Linked DNA regions of Homo sapiens: region 2 is linked to region 1. Evidence: fine-mapped expression QTL. Tissue or cell type: adrenal gland. Region 1 holds a variant in brackets; the other region holds the start of a gene. All regions are shown on one strand. Distances are between the middles of the regions.

Evidence for each region. PIP is the estimated chance that this variant, and not a neighbour inherited with it, causes the effect.
Region 2: WNT9B starts here. The variant in region 1 is the best candidate, but not a certain one, in a credible set for the expression of WNT9B in adrenal gland (GTEx, PIP 0.62).

The regions. Positions count from the first base shown.
Region 1 is chr17:46,894,329-46,897,083 of GRCh38, forward strand. It overlaps a transcript of LRRC37A2 not described here. Among named protein-coding and RNA genes, the nearest start is that of LINC01974, 17 kb to the right of the region's middle. RefSeq lists an enhancer at 36-656. The variant G/T (reference allele first, on the strand shown) is at 1,116.
Region 2 is chr17:46,850,642-46,853,141 of GRCh38, forward strand. WNT9B (Wnt family member 9B) reads left to right here and starts at 942. Exons shown (of 4, transcript NM_003396.3): 1 at 942-1,074. The coding sequence starts at 998. It also overlaps a transcript of LRRC37A2 not described here.

The DNA of each region.
Region 1 (2,755 bases):
GGGCTCTTGCTCTGTAATAACAAGGGGGGTCAGCCTACCCGACCTTGGGTTTTGCCAGGCCTCATAAGATTCCAATGTAGGTTTACACAGAAGGTCACTGGCTGATGTGCAGGGGTCATTAAGTCCCCCTAAGACAGGTGCCAGGAAACCTACCAATTGGATAATTAGGCTTGCCCCGACCCTACAGCCCTTGAGGGAGCAGACCTGGACTTCAGCTGCCCTCCCCATGGGGCGGAAGTGCCGGCACTGCGGGGGTCCCCTGGTGGAATGTGGCTGTGGTGGGTGCTGGGACAGAGGGCTTGGCTGACAGATCTAAGGCTGCCGCCTGCCACCAGGTCTCCGTGGGGCCGCCAGCCGGCCCCCCTCCTGTGGAATGACGAGCTCACTCCCCCCACCTGGCGTTTAATCTTTAATGCAGTCCCAGCTGCCCTCGGGCAGGACCCATCAACCCACCCGCTCTGATAAAAGCGATAATTAGCTCTTTTTCAACTTTTCACTTCTCCCCCCTCCACTCTGATGTGTGAGCATTGGGAGGATTCCAGCTAATGGGCCTGCCCACAGCCAATTCCCGGGCCATGCAAGCCGGAATGCACGGGGTCATTAGCGGGGCCTCCCGGGCAGGGGCCTGTGCTCGGGACGGGACGTGCTCGCCTGTCCGCTCTGGGGCATCCCAGCCACTGGAGAGCCGGCCGGATCTCGGCAGAGCAGACCTGCCCAGACAGGCTGGATCCCACCTTCCTTGGTGGTGGCCCCTGCCTGCACCACAGCAGAGACCACAGGAAGGTGGCCTTAGGCCCTCCCAGCGCCCGGCTGAGAGGACACGGGGCCATCAGTCCCCAGGCATCGCCCTGCTCCCAGGGCAGACAGCCCAGCCTGGGTTCAGCCACCGGTCAGTGCGGAGGCTGCTAGCTGGGATCCCCCACCCTAGCCCCACAAGTGACTTATAATAACTAACTTGTACATGGAGCCTTATGAAGTGCTTCCAGTTCTGAGGTAGCCGCAGCCCAAGGCTTAACCATGCAGGCTCAGGAGCTGGGCTGTACGAGTCAAATCCTAACTTCCCCATTTGTGTTATGAGGACGGAACCTCTCTGTGCCACAGCTCTCACCCGTGAG[G/T]TGGGGTCAGTGGCCGTGGTGCCTACCATGGAGGCTGATGTGAAGATTGAGATGATGCAGTGAAGTGCTTGACATGGTGCCTGGCCTGTCTGAGCATTCTGTCCCCGCCATTGTCACTATTTGGTTCTCTCAATAGGCCTCTAGATAATTGCTGTTACCCTGCCATGCAGAGGTTCAGAAAGGTTGTGCCTGGGAATTTCCCAAGTTTTATTTTCTTAATGATAATTGATTTAACCAGTCCTCACAGCAACGTTGCATGGCAGGTCCTGTTACTCCCATTTTGCAGAGAAGCAGCTTCCCCACGGCTCTGTGCTGGTACATGGTGGGTGCAGAAATATTTTCTGCTACTCCAAGAATCTTGCCTTGTTTGGAACCATCTGCTGCTGGGCAAGCCCCTGGTCCTACTGCAGGTGTCTGAGGATCCAGGAGACAAGTGGGAGCAGGGCCTGATCTGAGCTTGAGGGGTGGGAGCCTGGTGCTGGGCAGGGTCTTGAAGGGGAAGCTGGTGGGGGCAGAGGGGGTTCCATCTGGGGATTAAGAAAGACCAAGGCCAGGCTGGGCGCAGTGGCTCATGCCTGTAATCCCAGCACTTTGGGAGGCCAAGGCGGGCAGATCATGAGGTCAGGAGATCGAGACCATCCTGGCTAACATGGTGAAACCCCGTCTCTACTAAAAAAACCAAAAAGAAAAAACAAAAAAAATTAGCTGGGCCTGGTGGCAGATGCCTGTAATCCCAGCTACTCGGGAGGCTGAGGCAGCAGAATCACTTGAACCCGGGAGACGGAGGTTGCGGTGAACCAAGATCACACCATTGCACTGCAGCCTGGGCAACAGAGTGAGACTCTCTCTCAAAAAAAGAAAAAGAAAGAAAGAAAGAAAGAGAGAAAGAGAGAGAGAGAAAGAAAGAAAGAAAAAGAAAGAAAGAGAGAGAGAGAAGAAAGAAAGAAAGAGAAAGAAAGAAAGAAAGAAAGAAAGAAAGAAAGAAAGAAAGAAAGAAAGAAAGAAAGAAAAAGAAAGAAAGAAAGAAAGAAAGACAGACCAAGGCCAGGTACTGTGTCAGCTCATGCCTGTAATCCCAGAACTTTGGGAGGCTGAGACAGGATGATTGCTTGAGCCCAGGAGTTTGAGATCAGCCTAGGTGACAGAGTGAGACCCTGTTTCAAACAAACACATTAAAAAAAGACCAAGGTTAGCGCACAGGTCATGAACTGGTCAAGCTCCATCATGGTCACTCTCAAGGCAAAGCGACAGCTTGGCCCTGCCTATTTCCCTCCATCTGCAGACTATGTGCTGCTTTCTATGATGTCCGTCCCACCACAAGGCAGTCCTTGCCACTCACTGTCCCCTATTCCTCCTGGATTCCAGCGCCCAAGCAGGAGGGGAGTGTGTGGGGAGAAAGTCACACAGCATGGGCCTGGGACCCTGAGGGCATCTAGGGCTGGACACCCCCCACCAGAGTCCAGGCCAAAAGAAGTCCCCAAATCAACACTATTGGGTCTTACTAGGGCTTTCCAGCTTCAAGTCAAATGCTACAGACTGTGACTCTCCCACGTTCCTGAGGGGACTACAGAAGACCCACAAGCTAATGGGTGTGCCCCTGGAGGAGGTCGCTAGATAAACAGAAAGAGAGGAACTTCAGA
Region 2 (2,500 bases), 44 kb before region 1:
CACTTGGGTCATTGGTTGTATGTCTCCTTTCTAGACAGGTACCACGCGCCGCTTTGATCTCTGCACCTTCGCAGCAGAAATTGGGGTTAAACTTTAAAAAATAATAAGCAAAACAGAACTTTGGGGCCCAACACTTGAAGTTCCCACCCTATCTACCAGAGATTCTGGCATCTACACACCTTGGAAAGTGGGTCCCTCCTCCCGCAGGGCTCTGTCTGCCCCACTGTCCACTTTGGATTTCTGCGCTGGGGAACATCAGCAGCATTTTGTCAAAAGCCCACGGAGGCCCACGCTGCGCGCCTCGCCGGTAACAGTCACTCTCCCGTTTAAAAACAGAGCGCCCTTTCCTCTCTCCCCTCTGCCCAAGACTCTTTGCCTGGCAACAGGGTCCCCTGAGCCATTGGACATGCATTTCCCCCGCTTCCAGAGAGCGGTTCTGCACCAGGACCCGGCCCTGCCCTGAGTCTGCGGGCTGCGGCGAAGAGACCGCACTTGCCCGGCAGGAGGGCGGACAATGACCCGGGTTTTCCACCGACTCCAGATGCGTCCCTCCTCCTACCCCTCCACCTTCTCTACCTCGGAGAAGCCATTGCGCTTGCCTCCGCCCCATCCCGGAGAGGCAGAATCTCCTCCGTCCCCGCCTCGTACCCTCCTCCCCGCCTCTCCAGGCCCGGGGGGCTTCACGTTCAGCCACCGCGACCCCGGGCGGGCGCGGCGCCAGGTGAGCGCTCACCTGGGGCCGGAGGGCGGGGCAATGGGGGAGGGGCGGGGGCGGTCCAGGGGCGGCTGCCCCACCCGCGACGGGGCGGGGCGAGGGCGGTGGGGCCAATGGGGCGGGGGGCTCGCCGCCCGGGGCTGGGGAGCCTCCCAATCTCCTCCTTTCCCAGCGCCGCCTGCCCCGCCCCACCCGGGTTTAAAGTCCCGCGGGCGGGTGGTGGCGGAGCTGCGAGCTTGAGCGGCGCGAGGAGATGCTAGAGGGCGCAGCGCCGCCAGCACCATGCGCCCCCCGCCCGCGCTGGCCCTGGCCGGGCTCTGCCTGCTGGCGCTGCCCGCCGCCGCCGCCTCCTACTTCGGGTCAGTGCCCGCCGCGCCCCCCGCCCGCTCCCCGGCCTGCCTGTCTCTCCCTCCTGCGCTACAGCTGGGCCAATTTTTCCCTCCCGCTGTCCTTGGCCCCGCCGAGGTCTCGAACTCAGACCCTAGCCCGGCGCGACCCAACCCACTTCGCAGTCGGAGTTCGCGCCCTGAGTTCGGTCTCCAGCTTCCCCGGCTCCGAATCCATCGCCCTGTTCAGTGTCCGAGTCTCTGGTCGCCCCCCAGCCGCCGCTCTCCTCATCCCGCCGGGTCTCGGACTCTGCGCACGCCTCGGACCCTGGCCCCGTCCGCCCCGGCCCCGCCCGTTCAGGCGTCAGTCCCGCTCTCTGATGCCCTCTCGGGATCCTCACGCCGGTGCCCTGTCTGCCGCCATCCTGGCCTCCGGCGAGCCGTCCTTGCCTCGGACTCCTTCCCCACCCTCCGCCTTCGCCCTGCGGAGCGGAGACCGAGAGGGCTGGGTGGATGGGTGGGACGGGCTGTTCCCGGTCTCGGGGCAGAGGATCGTGCGCGTCCAGGGAGAATGGGGGAAACCTCGGACGGTGAGAGCGCCAGCTGGAGACGCAGGAAGGAACCGTGCGCTGGGGAAATGCGACCACATCTCAGACCTGGCATGGGGTGATTTCTCAGGAGAACACTGGAAAGAGTGAGAGGGCCCAGTGTGTGTGTGTGTGTGTGTGTGTGTGTGTGTGTGTGTGTGTGTGTGTGTGTACATGGTTGGAAAAGGAGGATCACAGTGGGGGGTGACACCTGGGGGACAGTGGGGTAGGTGACACTGGGGAGAGAGCCGGACAGGAACTATGTGGGGAATGTTTGGAGCAAAAGTTATAGGGCAATTGTTTCCAGTCCCTTCTTCTCTGACCCTGAATTGCAGGGATTTGGTGAGGGATGGGGGCGGGTATCATGGGTAAGAAGGCACCTTCCCACCATCCACCCAAAGCCAACTCCAATATGTACAGCCTGTTACTTTAAGCCTTGCCTCCTTTTAAAATCTTCACCCCAAATCAATAGGAGGCTTACAGTCTGAGTATATACAGCAAAGGCAAGAAAACACCAAGCAAGTGACCTGCTAGAGGCTGCTTTGAAGAAGTAGCCAGGGAGAGGTATGTAAAGGTCTGAGAAGTTCTGCACAGGTTGGAGTAAGGGCTGTGGGCTAATTTCCAGGTCATGACCCCTGGTGGAAACATGTCTGGGCTGTGGAGGAGGGTATCATCCCAGACCCTAGCTCTGGGCTTAGCTTGCTAATGATATGGGAAGACCACTCAGTCTCTGGGCCTCACTTTCTCCTTTTGTACAAAGAAGGGGTTGAACTTGATATGACTGATCCTTTTGCGATCCACCCCAACAGCAGTGCACAACTTGTTTGTTTCCGAAGATTTCAGGCTTGAAGGAATGGTTGTTCCCTCGGCAG